7 linked regions of the Homo sapiens genome follow. The protein of the gene in region 1 interacts with the protein of each later gene in a biochemical or structural test. Each region holds a gene or a part of one and is shown in the gene's direction. Other genes may lie near its edges. The genes, in order: GNA12, CDH15, PRKCE, S1PR4, PRKCD, PRKCB and CDH1.

Region 1 (3,500 bases):
TGTGCCTGGCCTAACTGTTGAGTTTTGAATGTCCTTGTATATTCTAAATGAGTCCTTTGTCAGATATGGCAGATGTGTGGTTGGCAAATATTTTCTCCCAGTTCATAGCTTCTTTTCAGCCTCTTAAGAGGGTCTTTGGCGGAGCAAAATATTTTCGTTTTCATCAAGTTCAATTTATTGATAATTTTTCTCGTGTGAATCATGTATTTGGAGTCACATCTAAGAACTTTGAGCACACCCTACATCCTGAAGATATTCTCCTATGTTATATATAGTTCTACATTTTGATTTGATTTTGTATAAGCTGTGAGGTTTAGGTCAAGGTTCTTCCCCACCCCCTCCCCCGCTCCCCCCAATTTTCTTTACCTGTGGAAGTCCACTTCCTCCAACAGCGTTTGTTGAAAAGACCAGGCTTCCTCTTTTTAATTGCTTTTGCACTTTTACAAAAATTACCTAGCTGTATCAGGGGCTATCCCTGGGTTCTCTGTTATGTTCCATTGATCTGTGGGTCTGTCACCTCACCAATACCACACAGTCTTGATTATCATAGCTATATAATAAGTCTTAAAATCAGATAGACTGATTGTTCCCACTTTTCTTTTTCAAAGTTGCTTTAGCTAATTTAATGCTTTTTCATATAAATTTTCAAATAATCATATTTATATCTACAAAAGATCCTGCTGGGATTTTATGGAAATTGTGCTAAACCTGTTTATTAATTTAAGGATATTGGTACCGTGTTGAATCTTCTAATTCGTGACCGTGGTATATCTATTAGATTTTGAAAATTTCTTTCCTCAACATTTTGCAGTTTTCAGCACATAAGTCCTACACATATTTTGTTAGATTTATACCTGTTTCGTTTTTTTAGTGATAGTTAGTAGTAGTACATCTTTCATTTCACTTTCCACATGTTCATTGCTAGTATATAGAAAGACAATTGAATTTCGTGTGTTGACATTATATCCTGCAACTATTCTGGATTCATTTGTTTATTCTAGGAGTTTTTTTGGTAGATTACTTTGGGATTTTCAACATAGATCATCTTTTTATCTGCAAATGGGTTTAGTTGTGTGTTTTCTTTTTTTGTGTGTCTAATCTATTTGTTTTCCCCCCTGCTTTTCCTGAGCTGTGTGATCTTTTATTTCATTTTCCTACCTTGTCGCACTGGCTAGAACTTCCAGAACCATGTTGAATAGCAGTAGCAGAAGTAGGCATCTTTGTCTTTTCCTAGTGTTGGAGGGAAAGCATTCAGTCTTTCACATTAATTATGAGGTTAGCTGTATGTTTTTTTGTCAGTGTTCTTTATCAAGTTGAAGCATTTCTCTGTTCCTAGTTTGCAAAGGTTTTTTAAAATCATGAGTGGGTGGTAAGTATTTTTTTTATCCATACATTTGTCTTTCTAGCCAGACTCTGAGTTTCTGGGGGTCAGATACTGCTTCTTAAAGTTTGTTTCCCCCACAAACAAACACACTGAACAAATGTTTGTGGATTGGTAGAACTAGGCATGGTCTCCAACGGCAGACAGACAAGGTCCTGAGGGGAAAATCAGGGAGCATCTCTAACCAGACCGTCCTGGTCAGCTGGGTCTGGAGGAGACTTTCAACTACTCTTTGGTCATCATTACGTCTGACTCAGTGGTTCAAGGCAGAAGTGGAAGTTATAGGCACCAAATTGATGCTGCAGGAGAGAGATGAAGGAGGCAGAATGGATTCATCTGCTCTGCCCTGGGTGTCAGAAATGAAGATTTTTAGGATAAGTGCCAACTAAAAATCATTAAGTTGTACACTTCAAATTGATGAGTTATATGGTACATGGATTATAGCACAGTAAAACTGTTATTTAAAAAGGAAAAAAAAAAAAAGGCCGGATGCAGTGGCTCACACCTGTAATTCCTAGTGCTTTGGAAGGCTAAGGCCAGAGGATCAGTTGAGCTCAGGAGTTTGAGACTAGCCTGGGCAATATAGTGAGACCCTGACTCTACGAAAATCTTAAAATTAGCCGGGCGTAACGAGGCATGCCTGTGGTCCCAGCTCCTTGAGAGGCTACGGGCAAGGATCACTTGAGCCCAGAAGGTCGAGATTGCAGTGAGCCATGTTCATGCCACTGCACTCCAGCCTGGGTGACAGAGCAAGACCCAGTCTCCAAAAAAGGAACATAGATAAGTGCCTAGTGAGCAGGTGACCCTGGTTTTCTCTGTCCTGGAGGATGGGATGCTGCTCTCAGCTGGCCTGAGTCCCTCAGATTGCTCTGAGATGAGAAGGCTTTTCCAGATGGACAGATGTGTACTTGATAGCCTTCTCAGGGCCCTTGACCACTCTGTATACCCCCAGTGTAGACCATACCAGAGAGTATGCAGTGTGCCCCTCAGAAGAACACAGAAGTTCTCATAAACACTGCCTTGCTGATTTCGAAACATTAGTCTAAGGATGGTGGAACAGACCTCCTAACTGCTCAGGGGGTGCTGTTTTTGCTGAGAGAATATTTTCCAAAGGCTGGCTGCATTCCCTAATACTATGTTAGTTATTTCTTCATCCCTTTGACCCTGTTGATGAGGTAAGAAGGGGCAGAACAACATTAACTTTATCTTTAACAATGAGGAAACAAGCAAAAGAATGAAAAGTAGTTTCTCATCACAAACGATGGTGACGTTAAATCTAGAACATGATCCCCTGGCTCCCGTTTTGGTGGGCGGGCTACTTGGCTTGTCGTATTTTAGTCTTTTCCTGTCTCATGACTGCTGACTGCCTGGATTTGTATGTTTTCCCACCCGTTTTAAGCTGGAAGAAGCAGTTGTATCTTTTGGAATAGAGGAGCTGCCAGATTTCAGTGATGATGACAATAGTAGCGCTGGTAGTACTCTTGGCAGTACAGTCATCTCCCGTTATCCACAGCCAGCCGCCAACGGAAAATAGGCGCGGACGGTGATACCACATTTGAGAGACAGAAGGAGAGACCATATTTACTTAACTTTCATGACAGTATATTGTTATAATTGTTGTATTTTATTATTAGCTATTATTAATCTCTTACTGTGCCTAATTCATAAATTAAATTAAACTTTAAAAACAATACAGGTAGGGCTTGGTACCGTTCAGACATCCACTGAGGGTCTTGGAACTTATGCCACGGATAAGGGGTGGAGGCTACTATAGTTGTTGTTAAAACATTGTTTTTTTGGCGGGGAGGCTGAGGCGGGCGGATCAGCTGAGGTCAGGAGTTCGAGACCAGGCTGGACAACATGGTGGAACCCCCCTCTCTACTAAAAATACAAAAATTAGCAGTCCGTGGTGGTCTGTAATCTCAGCTAAAAATAAAAAATTAGCCGGGCCTGGTGGCAGGTACCTGTAATCCTAGCTACTTAGGAGGCTGAGGCAGGAGAATTGCTTGAACCTGGGAGGCGGAGGTTGCAGTGAGCCGAGATCACTCCATTGCACTCCAGGCCAGGGCAAAAAGAGTGAAACTCCATCTAAGAAAAAAAAAAAAAAAAAAGTTGTTTT
Region 2 (3,500 bases), on another chromosome or scaffold:
CCTGCACCGCCTCAGCCTGCTGCTCCGGGACTCGGGGCAGCCGCCCCAGCAGCGCGAGCAGCCTCTGAACGTGACCGTGTGCCGCTGCGGCAAGGACGGCGTCTGCCTGCCGGGGGCCGCAGCGCTGCTGGCGGGGGGCACAGGCCTCAGCCTGGGCGCACTGGTCATCGTGCTGGCCAGCGCCCTCCTGCTGCTGGGTGAGTGAGCGCCCCGCCTCCACCTGGACCCTCGGACCCTCGGACCCTCCTCCCCAGGCCGTCCCCTGCTAACCAGCCACGCCGCTTCCTCCCCAGCTCCGCCTCCTCCCTAACCCCGCCCCCTCATTACCAGCCACGCCGCTTCCTCCCCAGCTCCGCCTCCTCCCTAACCCCGCCCCGTCATTACCAGCCACGCCGCTTCCTCCCCAGCTCCGCCTCCTCCCTAACCCCGCCCCCTCATTACCAGCCACGCCGCTTCCTCCCCAGCTCCGCCTCCTCCCTAACCCCGCCCCCTCATTACCAGCCTCGCCGCTTCCTCCCCAGCTCCGCCTCCTCCCTAACCCCGCCCCCTCATTACCAGCCTCGCCGCTTCCTCCCCAGCTCCTCCTCCTCCCTAACCCCGCCCCTCAGTACCAGCCACGCCGCTTCCTCCCCAGCTCCTCCTCCTCCGTAACCCCGCCCCCTCAGTACCAGCCACGCCCCTTCCTCCCCAGTTCCACCTCCTCCGCAACACCACCCACTCATTACCAGCCACGCCGCTTCCACCCAACCCGCCCCCTGCTCGCCAACCCCGCCCCCTCATTACTAGCCACGCCCCTTCCTCCCCAGCTCCGCCTCCTCCCTAACCCCGCCCCCTCATTACCAGCCACGCCCCTTCTCCACTGCCGCCTCCTCCCCAACACCACCCACTCATTACCAGCCACGCCGCTTCCACCCAACCCGCCCCCTGCTCGCAAACCCCGCCCCCTCGTTGCCAGCCACGCCTCTTCCCCAAGCCGGCCTCTCCTTACCAGCCAAGCTCCCTCCTCCACAACCCGGCCCCCTCCTCCCTAACCTCGCGGCTTCCTCCCCAACCCCGGCTCCTCCATGCCAGACACGCCCTTTCCCCAACTGCCGCCCCCTCAACCCCACCCCTGCTTACCAGCCTTGCCCCGCCCCGCCCCCTCCTCCCACCTCCTTCGCAGCCCGGCCCCCTGAAGTCGCGCCCTGTGCCTGGCCCCAGCCTGCGTCCCCTCATTCCCCAGTGCTGGTCCTGCTCGTGGCACTCCGGGCGCGGTTCTGGAAGCAGTCTCGGGGCAAGGGGCTGCTGCACGGCCCCCAGGACGACCTTCGAGACAATGTCCTCAACTACGATGAGCAAGGAGGCGGGGAGGAGGACCAGGTGAGGGGGCAGGTGTGGGTGGGGAGGGGTCCCCAAGGAACCCAGGTCGCGGGCCTTCTTACAACAAGCTGGCCAGGAGCCTGTACCTGAGACCTCCACCAGGGCCACCCGAGGGATGCCTGGCTCTGTTCCACCTCCTCGCCCACAGGACGCCTACGACATCAGCCAGCTGCGTCACCCGACAGCGCTGAGCCTGCCTCTGGGACCGCCGCCACTTCGCAGAGATGCCCCGCAGGGCCGCCTGCACCCCCAGCCACCCCGAGTGCTGCCCACCAGCCCCCTGGACATCGCCGACTTCATCAATGATGTAGGTGCTCCTGGGGACACCCCAGTACACACAGGCACGCACAGGTGCACACACACATGCACATGTACACACCTGCACATGCATGCAAGAACCGGCGCCTGCATGCACTTATGGGCCGTCCCAGAGCACCGCAGAGGAAGATGGTGTGCGGGCGGGAGTGTGGAAGCCCCGCTGCCACCGTCCAAACTGGGCCCTCAGCCTCCACCCGCGACGCGGGTCTTTGCACAGATGGAGTGGCGATGGCCACAGACCCATCCACTGCCCCGTGTCCACCATGGAGGGGGTGGGGGAGCCCCGGGAGCATCCCCTGGGCTTCGGTGGCTGTCAGCGGAATCAGGGCCTCCATAGAAGACCCTCTGGACACAGCGTTAATGATTCCCTGCCATCCACAGGATGAATGTGCACACGGGGAATCTGGGGTGTGGGGCGCACAGGGAACCCTCCTCTGTGCCTGTCTGCACCTGTAGCACCTGGCTCAGAGAAAGCCCCCAGCCAAGGTGTACACCCCCGGTTAGGAGCGTGTGTCCCCACGAGCTGAGAGGACAGACATGCAGACAGAGCCTCCGAAAGGCAGACGGGCCGTTCTGCGGATGGGGGTGTCCAGGAGGCTCGGGTTCTGCCTTGAGTGGACAAGGGCCACGGGGAGGAAGAGACCAGGGTGAGGGGGAGCAACCCCTTCCCACCTTGCTGGGGCAGGGCAGAGCCCCGGGGGACGGGCTGGCCGCTGGCCTAATACTGAGGAAGGGGGTAGTCCGTGGCACCCTCTTCACAACCCTGCTGCTGTGCCCTCAGGACGCTTTGCCTCCCCTCAGACCTCGCCCCCGGACGTGGGCAGCTTCCCCTTCCTGAGCCCGTGCCTTGAGCTGACTTTGCCCTGGGCTGTGGCCACGGCGGTGGGGCACCCGCTGGCCCCTCCATGTGTCTTGAGCTCTCCGGGCCTCTTTATAGGGCTTGGAGGCTGCAGATAGTGACCCCAGTGTGCCGCCTTACGACACAGCCCTCATCTATGACTACGAGGGTGACGGCTCGGTGGCGGGGACGCTGAGCTCCATCCTGTCCAGCCAGGGCGATGAGGACCAGGACTACGACTACCTCAGAGACTGGGGGCCCCGCTTCGCCCGGCTGGCAGACATGTATGGGCACCCGTGCGGGTTGGAGTACGGGGCCAGATGGGACCACCAGGCCAGGGAGGGTCTTTCTCCTGGGGCACTGCTACCCAGACACAGAGGCCGGACAGCCTGACCCTGGGGCGCAACTGGACATGCCACTCCCCGGCCTCGTGGCAGTGATGGCCCCTGCAGAGGCAGCCTGAGGTCACCGGGCCCGACCCCCCTGGGCCTGGGGCAGCCTCCTTCCTGTAGGCGAGGGCCCAAGTCTGGGGGCAGAACCTGAGTGTGGATGGGGCGGCCAGGAAGAGGCCCCTTCCTGCCGGGGTGGGAAGAGTTTCTCTCCATCGGCCCCATGCGGGTCACCTCCCTAGTCCCACCTTTGCCTCCTACCAGTGAACCTCATCTTTGTATGAAAGACAGCAACCTCCTGGGTAAATCTGAATGAAAAACGTGCTAGTCTCTTTCATGCAGGACGGGCGCCCACTGCCACACTGACCATGAGGGGGATGGGGCCAGTGAGGCCTGGCCTGGCAGGGACCTGAGGGCCAGGCCCCCATACCACCCTGCTTGGCTGGGGCAGGAGGCGGCCGGGGGCTGCCACTACCTGGACAGGGGCTATGGAGCAGCCGCTGACACCCTGGCTCCTTGCTGGTGAGCCCAGAGGTGGGGAGCAGGCACAGGTGAGACCCTTCCAGGCCCCAGGTGTGGCCTGAGGGAAGAACCAG
Region 3 (3,500 bases), on another chromosome or scaffold:
ATCCTTTACACGTGGCAAGAAAATGGGAATAATCATCTCATGCCTCGGATCAGGGTCCTCTGCCCTTGGTGCCATTCTCCATATCCTGTTCCCACTGAGATGAACACAGTGGTGTGGGGTGTGGCCTTTAGTATGCTCAATAAAGCACTAAAGGTGATCAGCCACCATTCCGATGGCTGGGTGAGATGGAAAAATTAACTCCTGTTCATTTAGAAAGAAGATGAAGGGGCAGGGAGCAGAGGAAGCTGTTTGCATTTCACCTGAGATCTCTGATTGTTCCCTGGTTCTGTTCAGAGCTAAGCCTGGGAGTCACCTTTCTGGGACCCCCTGAGAAGTTCTGGGAGGTCCTGCTCTGGGGACCAGGAAGCTCCTGGGATCACATGCCCTGGCATGTCCTGGACTCTTGAAAGCAGCAGCCTGTAGGTCAGTCAGCTGGCCCATCCCACCTGGTTCCCAGCCGTCTCACCTGCCCCTATCTCACCCTGATACCACTCTGGTGGGAAGGTAACTGGGGTTTACTTAAATGGCAAAAGCTGAAGCAATTACATTCTTTAGAGACTGACTAAATAAAAAGAGGTCCTCTGGTTAGGCATAACTCTGGGACCTGAACAGGATGTGGTCTAATTTTGAGCAAGACTCCGAGATTCTAGGTTTTCATATAGTGTAGGCAGAATGGGAACTTAGATGACTTTGGAGCATTTAGGTTATCTCTTAGGAAAAATCACAGCCAAAGTTTGAGCCAGTTTTAAAGAGTCTGTAAAATACGCGGGCGACAAAAAGTCTTCAGGTTAACATCATGAATTCCCTCATTAAGTTTCTGATGGCTGCTTTTTAGCTTTGATGACTTACATTGGAATACTGTACTTAGGAGTTACTTATTTAAGAAGAGAAAGGCTTGTGACGTTTGTAGGTAAATGAGTGCAAAAATATCAAATGATAGGAACACTTTAAGAACATAGAACTGTTAATTAGCTCTCTTGAAAAGGAATCACGTTTCCAGCTTCAGAGTTATAAAAGAAACCATAAAGGCAAACAAGGACAGATTCAACTACATAAAGATACATGATTCTTTTCAATAGAATAAAATAACAGAAAATTATAAAACAGGCTTAGAAAACCTTTTACAGAAAGTAAAGGGTTAGTATCTTTATATATCACATGTGTATAAATTTGTAAGAAATTAATATGATAGCAGCATAATTAGACAAAGGAGACGTGAATAATTTACACGAAAAGAAATACAGTCAGAAAACAGTTAATTTTAAAGTTTCATTTTAAGTAAAAATAGCATCAAGGTAACATTTCACACCTATTAAGTGAGCAAAAATACTTTTTAAGTGAAACTACTCAGTATTGGTAAGTCACCATGAAACTCCAACACTTCTACATTGCTAGTGGCACATTGTATCACACATCCTTTCTGAAAATAGGAAATGTGCAAAATGCTTCACCCTTTAATCTACTTATGAGGGTTTCCATCTTACAAATGTAATCCAAGAGAAATTGTTTTAATTGTGTACAAAAATACTCAATGCAACTTATATAATACTTAATGATTAGATATAACTGAAGTGCCTAATTTGAGGGAAATGGTTAAATAAATTATATTTACTTGAATTGAGTATAAGCAACCGTGATAATAATGGAGACCATATGGAGAATGTCTGTAAGATAATGTTCAGTTAAAAATAGTTACATTATTTTACTGTACTGTAACTGTAAAAATAGTTGGTGTACTGTAATTGTAAGTATGACAAACACATATAAACATATGAATAACCATTCAACAGATGTGCATTGAACTTCTCTTTTCTATGCCTGGGCATTGTGCCAGAGATCAAAAATAAATAAATTGTAGTAACTATTAGAATGTAGTAACTGTAGAACGGTAGTAATTGTAGAATAGGAAGTTTTCTTAAACATTATGTATACATCTTGAGAGGGGGTCTTGCTATGTTGCCCATGCTGATCTGTAACTCCTGGGCTCAAATGATCCTTCTACCTCAGCCTCCCAAGTATCTTGGGTGCATGCCACCACACCAGGCTTGTTATAATATTTAAAATTAAAGAAAAAACAGAATTCGTTTTTGAAGTATTTGGTATTAGCTTACACTTCTTCTTTTTATTCCATACATGCATAGATTGATGGAGGCAATTGATTGATTGCAGGTCATGTTGGCAGAACTCAAGGGCAAAGATGAAGTATATGCTGTGAAGGTCTTAAAGAAGGACGTCATCCTTCAGGATGATGACGTGGACTGCACAATGACAGAGAAGAGGATTTTGGCTCTGGCACGGAAACACCCGTACCTTACCCAACTCTACTGCTGCTTCCAGACCAAGGTATGTTAGGAAGAAGCTGGCTGGCTGCCATGTTGGGGCATCTTGACTATCAGATAAAATACCAATTTTAGACCCTCTACATTGTTCTCTCAAAGACTTTGTAAAGTGGGATGGGTTTTACCCTTGAAAAGATCAGGATGTATTTGAACAGCATCTTCTTTTTTAGGGCACAGGATTTTCCATTCAAGGTTGTGCTTGTGAAGGGATGAGAGAGCTGTAGAATTCTTTGCAGCCAGAGTTGGACAAAGCCAAATGGCTAAACTCACTGTTTGCTCATTGGAAAAACCAACAAGTGTGGTTAGTCCTTGCTCTGCTCCTAACTTTCTATCACTAATCAAATCACTTAACTTCTAAGTTATTTTCATGTCATATGAAAAAGAGTAAAGGCCACCTTAATCTCTTCTAATCTGTGTAATGTCATCTGAAATAAAGGATGTGAACAAATGCTTAAAATTTCATAGTGAAACACAAATATAAGGCAGCATTTTTAATTTACCGCATAGGTGTCTGGGAACCAGAAGGTGGCAGTAAAGAAACAAAGATAATCCATAACTCCATGGTAGAGTCTGACTCGAGTATTATTAACTAATTTGTTACCTGTTTTTAGTAAAGAAACAGCAATGTTCTTCATGAAGCTCTAATTTTGTTATCCTTTTTGAGGGGTTGGGAGGAGTTAAAGTCTTTTAGGATCATTATGGATGTTTGTAGTATTTTGCTTCTTGAGAAGGCAAAGACAGACATCACCTGAAACTCCTAGCTGTGGCTTATGTGGAACCCAGACCCTGAGGGTGACATCATGGAGAGGTGATACCTTGCTTCTGGGTGTATTCTCATCTCCATGTCATTTTGAATGCCAGTTTTTCCACTTAAAATTCAATAGTTATTCATTGAGTCATTTGGCAAACTTTTCTTTTATTATATTTCATTATATCCTTCCCGTGTATCTGATGCCATGCCAGGTGCTGGAGATACAGTGGTGAACTAGACTAGTCCCTGACCTCATGGAGTTTACATTATCTTTGGTACACCGTTTCCCAGAGAGGATTTCTCAGAACCCCAATCACTTGAGCAGCTGTAAGAAGAAAGGACTCTGTGACCCATAGTTGGAGTCACTGCAAACGTAACCTCTCTTAGTCTCAACACACGTATGTTTATTA
Region 4 (3,198 bases), on another chromosome or scaffold:
GGCCTCAGTTTTCCCTTCTGTAACGCATCAGGCTCTCTGGGCCTCAGTTTCCCCTTCTGCAACGCATCGGGCTCTCTGGGCCTCAGTTTCCCCTTCTGCAACGCATCGGGCTCTCTGGGCCTCAGTTTCCCCTTCTGCAACGCATCGGGCTCTCTGGGCCTCAGTTTCCCCTTCTGCAACGCCTCGGGCTCTCTGGGCCTCAGTTTCCCCTTCTGCAACGCATCGGGCTCTCTGGGCCTCAGTTTCCCCTTCTGCAACGCCTCGGGCTCTCTGGGCCTCAGTTTCCCCTTCTGCAACGCCTCGGGCTCTCTGGGCCTCAGTTTCCCCTTCTGCAACGCATCGGGCTCTCTGGGCCTCAGTTTCCCCTTCTGCAACGCATCGGGCTCTCTGGGCCTCAGTTTCCCCTTCTGCAACGCATCGGGCTCTCTGGGCCTCAGTTTCCCCTTCTGCAACGCCTCGGGCTCTCTGGGCCTCAGTTTCCCCTTCTGCAACGCCTCGGGCTCTCTGGGCCTCAGTTTCCCCTTCTGCAACGCATCGGGCTCTCTGGGCCTCAGTTTCCCCTTCTGCAACGCATCGGGCTCTCTGGGCCTCAGTTTCCCCTTCTGCAACGCACCGGGCTCTCTGGGCCTCAGTTTCCTCTTCTGTAACGCATCAGGCCCTGTTTCGGGGATCAAGTCGGATGAGTCAGTGCTCAAGGGCATGCAGGCACTTGACATTTATTAGGCACCTGCTGTGTGCTGAGCGCCGGTGGAGCATGTGGGGAGACCTCAGTGGAGCCGACGGGTGCTTCGGGGGTGATCAGGGCTGGTGGGGAGGAGTCGTCCGGCTGGAAAGGGGTGGCCCATCCCGAGTGGGGACTCATTTCCCCTCCGTGACTGACGGCTCCGGGGCTCCCTGCGGGTCTCCGGCTTTCGAGGACAGGAAGAAGGCAGCCAGGGCAGGGGTGGGGGTCCTCACAGCCAGGGCAGCCCCAGCGCGTTGGCTCCAGGAGCCCGGGTGGGGGCCGACCGTTGGGGTGCCCCTCCCTGTCCTCGGCCTTACCTCCACCCTGGAGGGCACCTTGAACATAACAGGAAATTTCAAATAACAGGAAACCAAGACCAGCAAGGCGGGTGGCTCCACCCTGCGTCGGGCCTCAGTCAGCCCCCGGGGGAGGCCATGAACGCCACGGGGACCCCGGTGGCCCCCGAGTCCTGCCAACAGCTGGCGGCCGGCGGGCACAGCCGGCTCATTGTTCTGCACTACAACCACTCGGGCCGGCTGGCCGGGCGCGGGGGGCCGGAGGATGGCGGCCTGGGGGCCCTGCGGGGGCTGTCGGTGGCCGCCAGCTGCCTGGTGGTGCTGGAGAACTTGCTGGTGCTGGCGGCCATCACCAGCCACATGCGGTCGCGACGCTGGGTCTACTATTGCCTGGTGAACATCACGCTGAGTGACCTGCTCACGGGCGCGGCCTACCTGGCCAACGTGCTGCTGTCGGGGGCCCGCACCTTCCGTCTGGCGCCCGCCCAGTGGTTCCTACGGGAGGGCCTGCTCTTCACCGCCCTGGCCGCCTCCACCTTCAGCCTGCTCTTCACTGCAGGGGAGCGCTTTGCCACCATGGTGCGGCCGGTGGCCGAGAGCGGGGCCACCAAGACCAGCCGCGTCTACGGCTTCATCGGCCTCTGCTGGCTGCTGGCCGCGCTGCTGGGGATGCTGCCTTTGCTGGGCTGGAACTGCCTGTGCGCCTTTGACCGCTGCTCCAGCCTTCTGCCCCTCTACTCCAAGCGCTACATCCTCTTCTGCCTGGTGATCTTCGCCGGCGTCCTGGCCACCATCATGGGCCTCTATGGGGCCATCTTCCGCCTGGTGCAGGCCAGCGGGCAGAAGGCCCCACGCCCAGCGGCCCGCCGCAAGGCCCGCCGCCTGCTGAAGACGGTGCTGATGATCCTGCTGGCCTTCCTGGTGTGCTGGGGCCCACTCTTCGGGCTGCTGCTGGCCGACGTCTTTGGCTCCAACCTCTGGGCCCAGGAGTACCTGCGGGGCATGGACTGGATCCTGGCCCTGGCCGTCCTCAACTCGGCGGTCAACCCCATCATCTACTCCTTCCGCAGCAGGGAGGTGTGCAGAGCCGTGCTCAGCTTCCTCTGCTGCGGGTGTCTCCGGCTGGGCATGCGAGGGCCCGGGGACTGCCTGGCCCGGGCCGTCGAGGCTCACTCCGGAGCTTCCACCACCGACAGCTCTCTGAGGCCAAGGGACAGCTTTCGCGGCTCCCGCTCGCTCAGCTTTCGGATGCGGGAGCCCCTGTCCAGCATCTCCAGCGTGCGGAGCATCTGAAGTTGCAGTCTTGCGTGTGGATGGTGCAGCCACCGGGTGCGTGCCAGGCAGGCCCTCCTGGGGTACAGGAAGCTGTGTGCACGCAGCCTCGCCTGTATGGGGAGCAGGGAACGGGACAGGCCCCCATGGTCTTCCCGGTGGCCTCTCGGGGCTTCTGACGCCAAATGGGCTTCCCATGGTCACCCTGGACAAGGAGGCAACCACCCCACCTCCCCGTAGGAGCAGAGAGCACCCTGGTGTGGGGGCGAGTGGGTTCCCCACAACCCCGCTTCTGTGTGATTCTGGGGAAGTCCCGGCCCCTCTCTGGGCCTCAGTAGGGCTCCCAGGCTGCAAGGGGTGGACTGTGGGATGCATGCCCTGGCAACATTGAAGTTCGATCATGGTACGTGATGTTGCGGCCTCTTATTCCCTGGTGCGTGCATGCGTGGGGGCCGTGGCTCAGGGGGGCTGTGGATCTAGGGGCAGCCGGGTGTGTCTTTGCTAGAGAGGGCCACGGGCCAGTGCCCTGTGAGGGTGGAGTGTGTGTGTGTGTGTGTGTGTGTGTGTGTGTGTGTGGACAACCTCTGGGCGTTGCGGGAAGTGGGGGTGACAATGACAGTTAATGCCGCCTCTTCTTGTTCACTTCCCCTTTAGAAATGGCAGGGCCCATGCCCCATCTCTGGCCTCTGCATCTTTTGGGGACCCACTCTCTGGGGCTGGCAGAGGCACCACCTTGGCTTCCTGGGCTGGGGGAATCTTCCCTCACATCCCCTTCAGCATGAACGGCCTCGGCTTTCCCGGTGGGTAAAACAGTTTAATCACTGAAGCCGAAGCACAGGGTTGATTGTACACGCTCCCCGCCAGCCACAGGGGCTGACAACTGCCTGCCCCGTGAAACTCCAGTGG
Region 5 (3,500 bases), on another chromosome or scaffold:
ACAAGCAAGGCTACAAATGCAGGCGTAAGTGTCTCCACAGGCCAGTTTGTACGTATGTACCCATGTGTGCTCACGTGTGCCAGTGCCTGTGTGTATGCCAGTGCCTGTGTGCGCTCAGAGAGTGTATGCACGTGAGTTTTCCCAGTGTAGATACAGCAGCTGAGTTCAGTGAGTGCTGGGGCTGGCTTGCTGCTGCTCTGGAAAACCAGTTCTGCGCATCTCTTCCCAGCTCCGCATTCAGTGACGGGGAGTTGGTGGATGGCAATTGGGCACAGTAGAGTATTCACGCAGAAACCAGCCCAGGCCATGCACCAGGCCTCTTTTCCTCGGAGAGGCAATGATAGGTCCTTTACTGGCACATAGTGGCTGCATGTGCTTCTGTGTAGATGTGGGTGTCTCTGAGTACACAGGTGTGAGCACACTCTGTCCCTGAGGGTGTATACACGAGGCGCCGCAGGCTGGAGTCAGACTGCCTGGGTTTGAATCCCAGCTCTACCACTTCCTAGCTATAGGGCCTTAGGCAAAGTTACTTAACCTCTCTGTGCCTCAGTTTCCTCATCTATAATTTTTTTTTTTTTGAGACTGAGTCTCATTCTGTTGCCCAAGCTAGAGTGCAGTTGTGCGATCTCAGCTCACTGTAACCTCCCTCTCCAAGGTTCAAGCGATTCTCTTGCCTTAGCCTCCTGAGTAGCTGGGATTACAGGCGTGCACCACCATGCCCGGCTAATTTTTGTATTTTTAGTAGAATAGGGGCTTTGTCATGTTGGCCAGGCTGGTCTCAAACTCCTGACCTCAAGTGACTCACCCACCTCAGCCTCCCAAAGTGCTGGGATTATAGGCGTGAGCCATCGTGCCTGGCCCTCATCTATAAATTAGATATAACTATAATGTATAATAGGGTCATTGTGAAGATCAAATGGAATAAGATATGTAAAGCTGTATTTTAAGTGCCTTCCACTGGTAGCCGCTCTGTGTAAGAAGTCTGTTATCATTATTACACATGCTTTGTGTGTATGTACAGGTGTCTGTTTTGAGGCGTGTCCATGTGCATGTGTAAGAGAGGGCATTTAGGAGCCGTTTGCTATCCCAGGGCTTGGAAGAACTGCCCCCGCTTCTCATATTGCGATGCCCTGTGCCCGCTAACTTCTGCCCACCTCCCTGCCCACTAGGACTCCTTCTTTCTAAGCCCCTGCAGATTGGCCTGTCCTCTCCGCCCCGTCCTCTCCAGGCTCCTCCTTCGAGGGCTGGCAGGAGGAAGACTCAAGCGCTGGGCCTCTGCGGGGTGAGGGTGTGGGCGGTCAGGAGAACGGTGGCTTTGTGTAGAGGGCTAGACTGGTCGGCAGGCACCAGCTCATAGACTCTGCCCCTCCCGGTGCTTTCCCTTCCCCCTCCTGGGCCTGTGCCTCTTCAAGAATGTAACGCTGCCATCCACAAGAAATGCATCGACAAGATCATCGGCAGATGCACTGGCACCGCGGCCAACAGCCGGGACACTATAGTGAGCCTGGGTCCGGGGCAGGGCTGGGGATCTGGGGGGCTTGGCCAGATGGGAGGGATTTGCACCCTCTCCCCACCCTCCCTGGGGAGCTTACCCTCCCTCCCCATTTTTCTTAGTCTTTCCTTGCCTCTCCCAGTGGAGCTCTCTTGGGATGTTGTTGTGCCCAGGGTTGGGGGAGAGCTAGGGGTTGAAGAAGAGGCTGGAGCTGGCACGTGACCCTCAGCCTGTGATACCCCCACCTCCAGTTCCAGAAAGAACGCTTCAACATCGACATGCCGCACCGCTTCAAGGTTCACAACTACATGAGCCCCACCTTCTGTGACCACTGCGGCAGCCTGCTCTGGGGACTGGTGAAGCAGGGATTAAAGTGTGAAGGTGCGTGCCACCCCGCCCCTGGGCTGCAGGAGGGGCACTCCCAGCTGGTGCTGCTGTGAATTCCAGCCACCTCACGCCACCCTCGCCTCCTCACCTGGAGACGGGCACCTCATTCAGGGACCTGATGAGGGTGAGGCCTTGGTGGACCCTCCCCACTGGCCTGACTGGCTCTGCCACTTACCTGCTGTGTGACCACAGGTGGGCGGCTCCACCCCTCTGAGCCATTTGGAGGAGAAAAGCAGGACCTAGAGAGTCCCTGTGAGGGGCCAGTGGGCAGAGGGTGCTGAAGCCAGGCCTGGTGCACACCGACAGGCGCCCAGACAGGCCTCCCCTGCCCTCTGCTTCACTTAGAGATGAGACAGAAGACCCTGGAGGGAAAGCGGCTTAAGTTGACCAGATGTTCTTTAAAGGGTTTCGAATTAGGTCCCTGTCTTCTGGTTTTTCCTTTTTCTTTAAATCATGAAAGATTGGCTGGGCGCGGTGGCTCACGTCTGTAATCCCAGCACTTTGGGAGGCCGAGGCGGGCGGATCATGAGGTTAGGAGATCGAGACCATCCTGGCTAACATGGTGAAACCCTGTCTCTACTAAAAAAATACAAAAAAATTAGCCTGGCGTGGTGGCGGGCGCCTGTAGTCCCAGCTGCTCGGGAGGCTGAGGCAGGAGAATGGCGTGAACCCAGGAGGCAGAGCTTGCAGTGAGCCGAAATCATGTCACTGTACTCCAGCCTGGGTGACAGAGTGAGACTCCGTCTCAACAACAACAACAACAACAACAACAACAACAACAAAAATCATGAAAGATTGAAATGCTTGGCCGGGCGTGGTGGCTCACACCTGTAATCCCAGCACTTTGGGAGGCCGAGGCAGGTGGATCACCTGAGGTGGGGAGTTCGAGACCAGCCTGGCTAACATGGAAAAACCCCGTCTCTACTAAAAATACAAAATTAGCCGGATATGGTGGCGCATGCCTGTAATCCCAGCTACTCAGGAGGCTGAGGCAGGAGAATCCCTTGAACCCAGGAGGCAGAGGTTGCGGTGAGCCGAGATTGCGCCACTGCACTCCAGCCTGGGCAATAAGAGGGAAACTCCATCTCAAAAAAAAAAAAAAAAGAGAGAGAGAGAGAGAGATCGAAGTATTTATGATGGCTTCAGATCAATGTTTTCCTAGAAACTGGAACCCAGCAGACCCCACTGAAGCCCTCCTTTCTCTTGCTCTCCTGCGCCTCTCCTACACTGCCCCCTGCCCTTGGCTGAGCTCTGAGACTGACAGCCCCGCTTCTCCCTCACCCCAGACTGCGGCATGAATGTGCACCATAAATGCCGGGAGAAGGTGGCCAACCTCTGCGGCATCAACCAGAAGCTTTTGGCTGAGGCCTTGAACCAAGTCACCCAGGTGGGCAGGTGCCATGGGGACCCTGGACACAGGGCAGTGGGGTCAGGGACAGTCAAGGCTTACAGCCACTGCTGGGGAGCCACAGACAGCCAGGATATATTTAGACCCAGGACTCTACTTCGGGAAGATGCAACTCAAGAATTTAGGCAGCAGAGGGAGGGGGGCTTTTTTTCATAAGAAATTCATTATTCAGGCAGTTCTTTACTTGAGGGTGAACCTGGGGACCACAGGAGT
Region 6 (3,500 bases), on another chromosome or scaffold:
ATTTTTTACAAGGTAAATGTATTTGGGTATTACTTGAGTAATAAAGTAATTCTTTAAAAATAATAAGGCTTTACTCGGACCCAGTGAAGTTTTCCCTATGTGATATGCTTTGGTCTATTATCATTTTGTTAATTAATTAGATAGGACACAATCCATAACACAACTTCCTGATAGGCCAGGGGTTCCATAATCTCTGGTTCTCAACTCTAACTGCAGTTTAGAGTCGTGAGGGAGCTTTTACAATGTAGGATGCAGCTGGGGCATGGTGGCTCACTCCTGTAATCTCAGCACTTTGGGAGCCTGAGGCAAGAAGATCGCTTGAGGGTAGAAGTTTGAGACCAGACTGGACAACATAGTGAGACCCTAATCTCTACAAAAAAAATTAAAAATTCGCCAGGTGCACTAGGTCACCCCTGCTGTCCTGACTACTCAGGAGGCTAAGGTGGGAGGATCACTTGAGCCCAGCAGGTAGAGGCTGCAGTAAGCAGTGATCATGCCACTGCACCCCACCCTGGGCGACTGAGCGAGACTCTGTCTCAAAAAAAGAAAGAAAGAAAGAAAGAAAGTGTTTCCACACTTTTAAAGTACTTCAAGTCTTATTTGATCCTCATGACAAGCCAACAAGTTAATCCTTTTACAAAGGAAACTAGAGCCTGGGATGTGACAGCAGTTGCCGAAGGTGATGTGGTTAGCTCATGACAAAGCCTGACCTGCTGCTTATCCCTCCCATCTGTGGGCTGGAGGGGAGGCAACTTCACCAGCCACACAGTTGAGGGTTTCTTGTGCTTGCCTGAATCACGACCAGCGAGGAACTTCTGAGAACCACAGATCCTGGGCCTCCACCTGCAGAGATTCTAATGGGATGATGCTTGGGCATCCCACATTGTTTCTTGTGTGTGTGTGTGTGTGTGTGTGTGTGTTTGAGACAGGGTCTCACTCTGTCTACTCACTGCAAGCTCTGCCTCCTGGATTCATGCCATTCTCCTGCCTCAGCCTCCCGAGTAGCTGGGACTACAGGTGCCCATCACCACGCCCAGCTAATTTTTTTTGTATTTTTTTAGTAGAGACGGGGTTTCACCGTGTTAGCCAGGATGGTCGCGATCTCCTGACCTCGTGATCCGCCCGCCTCGGCCTCCCAAAGTGGAAAACACGTTCAATGAGAAGTGTTCTCCTGGAATGCTTTCCCTTCCTTGTCTTGAGGGTTACTTCTCAGAATGCATTTCATTCATTCATAATTGACCAGTAAAATTGTATACATTTATCATGTGCAACATGTTGTTCTGAAATATGCATACATTGTGGAATGGCTAAGTTGAGTTAATTAACATATTTATTGTCTCACATACTTATTTTTTTATGGTAAAAACACTTAAAAATCCCTCTTAGCAATTTTCAAGAATACAATAGATTGTTATTAACTATGGTTACTGTGTTACACGATAAGTCTCTTGAATTTATTCCTGCTACTTAACTGAAATTTTGTATCCTGTAATCAACATCTCTGCATTTCTGATTTTGGAATAGAAATCAAAGTGGGAGATAGAGATCAAGAAACAAACATTCACTTTATAGCCAAGTTTGCTCAAATACCCTTTTTGAGTTAAACAAGCAATAACTGAATTATAAAACATTCTAGGATTAGTTAACATTTTGAGGGCATAATATGTGAAAGCCACCGAGTATCTCATTCATCCTCACATAACTTCATGATATAGAGATTATAGAAGTTAAGTAACTTCTCCTGTGGTCAGACAGCCAACCGGTAGACAGCAGTCAGGATTCAAAGTCAGACTGCCTAACCCTCAGACCTCAGCCTTTAGCCTTTGCTGTATTACCTCTTAACCTCTGACATGGTTAGTTTTACATCCCTGCATACTGAAAGATGGACAATCACATAGCTCTTCTAGACTTTTCCATGTTCTTGCAGTTTGGGAATATGAATTAAAAACTTCACAACCATATATACCATATGATACACCAATTCTACATCTAGGAGTTTATCTTAAGGAAATACTTGGACAGATGTCCAAATGTCTAATTACAAGAATATATGTTACAGCATTGGAAGAAACCTAATCAACTGGAAATTTATAAGATAGATTTTGGTATATCCATTCAACGGAATGCTATGCACAGATAAAAATTGATTATGTTCATATACAAATATTAAATTAGCAAGGAAAACTTAAGTGAATAACTGGCTTTATTAAAGATCTATTGCCCATAATCCCAGTGCTTTGGGAGGCCAAGATGGGAGCTTTGCTTGAGTTTGAGATCAGTCTGGGCAATATAGAGAGACCCCATCCCTACAAAAAATTAAATAATTAGCATGGTGGTGAGCACCTGTAGTCCCAACTACACAGGAGGCTGAGGTGCGAGGATTGCTTGAGCCCAGGAGGCCAAGGCTGTGAGCTGTGAGCTATGATCTCACCACTGCACTCCAGCCTGGGTGACAAAAAGAGACACTATCTCAAAAAAAAAAGAAAAGAAAAAAAGAAAAAAAATCGTCCAAATACTAAAGTGTTTATGTAAAGCACACACATACACACAGAGTTTAATATGTATTCAGAGAAAAGAGTATGGAATGAAGTAGACCAAATATTAGTCATAATTTTTCTCTTAATAAAGGATTATGGGTGATTTTCATGTTATTATCTCAGCTGAGCTATCTTTTATAAAGAAATATTAAAATAGTGACAAATGTTGTTATCTCTTAAACGTTTTTATGTTTAATTATGTTTTAAAAACATGTAACGTAAAATTTACTATTTTAACCAGTTCTAAGTATACAATTTAGTAGTGTTAAGTATATTTACATTATTGTGTAAATGTTGTAACTTTTACAGAGGAGTAAAGACAGTTTTTCCTTTTAAAAATTCCATGCTCACTGTTTTGAAAATAATAATAACAATACACCTTACTTAGTGCTTCGAAAAGGCAATGTGACAGCCACAGGTGTTTGCCCAGCTGCAGGTGCCTCTGCAAAGCATGTCTGTCATTCCCTGAATAGCTAATATAAAGAAACAGTTCAGGTGGGCACTGGCCTTCTTGTAAAAGAAGAGTGAAATCTGTCTCCAGAAGAAACATGAACTGCAAACCTCCCTGATAGGGTGCCTTCTCTTTTCTAGATAATTGCTTATCAGCCCTATGGGAAGTCCGTGGATTGGTGGGCATTTGGAGTCCTGCTGTATGAAATGTTGGCTGGGCAGGTAATTGAATTTTAAGTGATCGATAAGAGAAGTCCTCCCTACCCCCATCCACATGGTTTCTTTAGGAGAATGCATGTTTGGTAACAGCTCATAAATTGGAACCTCTATGACTTTCCCGGCCTTGGGGTCATACAAGTCTGTGGTCATTTGAAAGCCTGGGTGTGTGGCTTCACTGTGGGCCCCAGGGAGGAGGGTCTGCCAGTTGAGGGGAGCTAGGGGGAGGGTTCAAGCAGGGATTCTTCTCCTCCCACCCTCCCCTGTCATACAGGCACCCTTTGAAGGGGAGGATGA
Region 7 (3,500 bases), on another chromosome or scaffold:
ATGACAGGAGAGGAGGTGGCATGTTGCCACCATTTAGGAACTACTGTATTGTTTGGGGGAGCTGGTCTGCAGGAGTCTGCTTTTAAAAATAAATAAGGATTATAGTAATCATTGCTTCAGCAAGAATCATCCACAGATGCCAAATCCATTGGGTGAAAATTAGTTGCTGAACAAGATATTCTCAAATTATCTACCTGCAGATTATAGGTTAATCATGCAGTGAAAAAAGGCACCTTTGCTGTGAAGAAATCTGGTGGCCTTTCCCTTATCCAAGTGATCAAAGTTATCAATAGAAGCACAGACAGACATCATGTGCCTCCCAGTGTCCTGCACTAGGGAGGCCACAGCATCACCTCTGTCCTGTTCTTGCCCCCACCGACCCCTGAAATGGATTACCTGAATCTAAATTTTGAGGAATAATCAGACAAACCCAAGTTAAGGGGCATGCTACAAAACAACGGCCAGCACATTTCAAAAATGTCAGTGACAGAAAAGAAAGACCTAAGGAAGAGCCATGCCAACGAAAGGCCATATTGGATCCTGAATCCAGAAGGGTGCAAGGTTGCTATAAAGGACATTTTTGGAAAATCTGACAATTCGAATATGCACCATATATTCGACAATAGAATTCTATCAAAGTTTTGTTTCCTAAAATTGAAAATCAAGACTGGTCACGGTGGCTCACACCTGCAATCCCAGTGCTTTGGGAGGCCGAGATGGGTGGATCATCTGAGGTCAGGAGATCGAGACTATCCTGGCTAACATGGTGAAACCTCGTCTCTACTAAAAATACAAAAAATTAGCCGGGCGTGGTGGCGGGTGCCTGTAGACCCAGCTATTCAGGAGGCTGGGGCAGGAGAATGGCATGAACCTGGGAGGTGGAGCTTGCAGTGAGCTGAGATCACGCCACTGTACTCCAGCCTGGGCGACAGAACGAGACTCTGTCCCAAAAAAAAAAAAAAAGAAAAGAAAAAAAAAGAAAATCAAATTGGGGTTATATAACAGAATGCCTTTGTTCTTAGGAGATAACACATTGACATATTTATAAGTAAAGGAACATGACTTCTGCAATTTATTTGCAGATGGTTCAGCAGAACAAGAAATTATGTAGGCGTGTGTCAATATAGACAGAGCAGATGTGGCAAAGTATTAACAATGAGTAAACTCAGGTGAAGAGTTCATGGATGGTCATCATACTATTATAGTAACTTGTCTGTTGTATTGTTGGTTTTCTTGGTTTTCTTTTTTTTTTTTTTTTTTTAAAGACGGAGTTTCGGCCGGGCGCGGTGGCTCACGCCTGTAATCCCAGCACTTTGGGAGGCCGAGACGTGCGGATCATGAGGTCAGGAGATCGAGACCATCCTGGCTAAAACGGTGTAAACCGCGTCTCAACTAACAATACAAAAAAATTAGCCGGGCGTGATGGCGGGCGCCTCTAGTCCCAGCTACTCCGGAGGCTGAGGCAGAAGAATGGTGTGAACCCAGGAGGTGGAGCTTGCAGCGAGCCGACATCGCGCCACTGCACTCCAGCTTGGGCTACAGAGCAAGACTCCGTCTCAAAAAAAAAAAAAAAAAAAAAGAAAGAAAGGGTTTCACTTTTGTTGCCCAGGCTGGAGTGCAGTGGTGCAATCTCGGCTCACTGCAACCTCCATCTCCCAGGTTCAAACGATTCTCCTGCCTCACCCTCCCCAGTAGCTGGGATTACAGGCGTGTGCCACCACACCCAGCTAATTTTTGTATTTTTAGTAGAGACAGGGTTTCACCATGTTGACCAGGCTGGTCTCAAACCCCTGACCTCAGGTGATCTGCCCACCTCAGCCTCCCAAAGTGTTGGGATTACAGGCATGAGCCACCGCGACCGGCCTATTGTTGGTTTTCAAAATAAAAACGTTGGAAGTAACCATATAACTGAAGAAGCGCTTAAGCCGTTTTCAGCTACATGTTGTTTGCTGGTCCTATTCTAAAAGCCAGAGCTTGTCCCCGTTCAGATATCGGATTTGGAGAGACACTGCCAACTGGCTGGAGATTAATCCGGACACTGGTGCCATTTCCACTCGGGCTGAGCTGGACAGGGAGGATTTTGAGCACGTGAAGAACAGCACGTACACAGCCCTAATCATAGCTACAGACAATGGTAAGGGGGCCTCATCTGAGCCTTTGCTGCCTCGACCTCCTAGCTAGTTCAGTTCCTTGCCCCTCCCTTCTTTTGGAGGGAAGAGTTCATTCTTTTTCTTTTATCCTTTTTGTTTGCTGGATTGATTTGTATAAATGTATGGAGTACAAGGGTAATTTTGTTACATGCATAGATGTGTAGTGGTAAAGTCAGGGCTTTTAGGGTATCCGTCACCCAAATAACATGCATTGTACCCATTAAGTAATTGTTCATCATCTACCCCCTCCCACCCCTTGGACCCTTCCCAGCTGCCATTGTCTATCATTCCACAATCTACATCCATGTGTACACATTATCGAACTCCGACTTCTAAGTGAGAACATGCAGTATTTCTCCTTATATGTCTGATTCGTTTCACTTGAGACAATGGCCTCCAGTTTCATCCATGTTGCTGCAAAAGATTTCTCTTTTATTCTTAAACAAAGGCATTCTTATTATCAAAAATTCAAGTGGGCTGGGCACGGTGACTCACACCTGTAATCCCAGCACTTAGAGAGGCTGAGGTGGGAGGATCACTTGAGCCCAGGAGTTCAAGACCAGCCTGGGTAACATGGCAAAACCCTGTCTCTACAAAAAGTACATAAATTAGCTGAGTGTGTTGGTGAGCACCTGTAGGCCCAGCTACTCAGAAGGCTGAAGTGGTAGGATTGCTTGAGTCTGAAAGGTGGAGGCTGCAGTGAGCCAAGATTGCGCCACTGCTCTCCATCCTGGGCAACAGAGCAAGACTCTGTCTCCAAAAAAAAAATTGTTTTTTCAAGTAATTTTGGTCAAACAGAACTTACTTTTCACTACTCACTCTTTATTCCTTCCCTAAGGGAACCAGGTAATGATGGTTTACAATCCATTTCCAAAGCTTAATACTTGTGTGACCTTGGATTTGCTGTTTAATTTTTTTTTTTTTTTTGAGACAGAGTCTTGCTCTGTCACCCAGGCTGGAGTGCAGTGGTGCAATCTTGGCTCACTGCAGCTTCCGCCTCCCAGGTTCAAGCAATTGTCCTACCTCAGCCTCCCAAGTAGCTGGGATTACAGGTGTGCACCACCACGCCCAGCTAATTTTTTGTATTTTTAGTAGAAACGGGGTTTCACCATATTGGCCAAGCTGGTCTTGAACTCCTGACCTTGTGATCTGCCCACCTTGGCCTCCCAGAGTGCTGGGATTACAGGTGTGAGCCACCGTGCCTGGCCTGCTGTTTAATTTTTATGTCCCTCAATTCCTTTACCTGAAAAATGTTAATACCCATGTGGGTGAAATTAGTTAGGTGTTAAATCAGTTAGGTGTGGGTCCTTCCAGACTGCTTCTGTGTATTTAAATACATTTATAGGCTGG

The links.
Region 2: the proteins of GNA12 (region 1) and CDH15 form a complex in vitro, tested with the Homo sapiens proteins (one study listed by BioGRID).
Region 3: of the proteins of GNA12 (region 1) and PRKCE, one has a biochemical effect on the other in vitro, tested with the Homo sapiens proteins (one study listed by BioGRID).
Region 4: the proteins of GNA12 (region 1) and S1PR4 form a complex in vitro, tested with the Homo sapiens proteins (one study listed by BioGRID).
Region 5: of the proteins of GNA12 (region 1) and PRKCD, one has a biochemical effect on the other in vitro, tested with the Homo sapiens proteins (one study listed by BioGRID).
Region 6: of the proteins of GNA12 (region 1) and PRKCB, one has a biochemical effect on the other in vitro, tested with the Homo sapiens proteins (one study listed by BioGRID).
Region 7: the proteins of GNA12 (region 1) and CDH1 form a complex in vitro, tested with the Homo sapiens proteins (one study listed by BioGRID).

The regions. Positions count from the first base shown.
Region 1 is NC_000007.14:2,795,809-2,799,308, reverse strand, and holds part of GNA12 (guanine nucleotide-binding protein subunit alpha-12), read left to right. Parts: intron 1-3,500. UniProt on the Homo sapiens protein: Guanine nucleotide-binding proteins (G proteins) are involved as modulators or transducers in various transmembrane signaling systems. Activates effector molecule RhoA by binding and activating RhoGEFs (ARHGEF12/LARG).
Region 2 is NC_000016.10:89,192,248-89,195,747, forward strand, and holds the end of CDH15 (cadherin-15 preproprotein), read left to right. Parts: coding exon 1-197; intron 198-1,222; coding exon 1,223-1,359; intron 1,360-1,507; coding exon 1,508-1,666; intron 1,667-2,614; coding exon 2,615-2,908; 3' UTR 2,909-3,245; downstream 3,246-3,500. UniProt on the Homo sapiens protein: Cadherins are calcium-dependent cell adhesion proteins. They preferentially interact with themselves in a homophilic manner in connecting cells; cadherins may thus contribute to the sorting of heterogeneous cell types.
Region 3 is NC_000002.12:46,008,175-46,011,674, forward strand, and holds part of PRKCE (protein kinase C epsilon type), read left to right. Parts: intron 1-2,141; coding exon of another isoform or gene 2,142-2,159; exon of another isoform or gene 2,160-2,169; coding exon 2,170-2,343; intron 2,344-2,509; coding exon of another isoform or gene 2,510-2,563; exon of another isoform or gene 2,564-3,500.
Region 4 is NC_000019.10:3,177,635-3,180,832, forward strand, and holds S1PR4 (sphingosine 1-phosphate receptor 4 precursor), read left to right. Parts: upstream 1-1,134; 5' UTR 1,135-1,158; coding exon 1,159-2,313; 3' UTR 2,314-2,698; downstream 2,699-3,198. UniProt on the Homo sapiens protein: Receptor for the lysosphingolipid sphingosine 1-phosphate (S1P). S1P is a bioactive lysophospholipid that elicits diverse physiological effect on most types of cells and tissues. May be involved in cell migration processes that are specific for lymphocytes.
Region 5 is NC_000003.12:53,181,709-53,185,208, forward strand, and holds part of PRKCD (protein kinase C delta type), read left to right. Parts: coding exon 1-24; intron 25-1,412; coding exon 1,413-1,498; intron 1,499-1,743; coding exon 1,744-1,873; intron 1,874-3,165; coding exon 3,166-3,266; intron 3,267-3,500.
Region 6 is NC_000016.10:24,181,983-24,185,482, forward strand, and holds part of PRKCB (protein kinase C beta type), read left to right. Parts: intron 1-3,128; coding exon 3,129-3,209; intron 3,210-3,477; coding exon 3,478-3,500. UniProt on the Homo sapiens protein: Calcium-activated, phospholipid- and diacylglycerol (DAG)-dependent serine/threonine-protein kinase involved in various cellular processes such as regulation of the B-cell receptor (BCR) signalosome, oxidative stress-induced apoptosis, androgen receptor-dependent transcription regulation, insulin signaling and endothelial cells proliferation.
Region 7 is NC_000016.10:68,817,292-68,820,791, forward strand, and holds part of CDH1 (cadherin-1 isoform 1 preproprotein), read left to right. Parts: intron 1-1,988; coding exon 1,989-2,134; intron 2,135-3,500.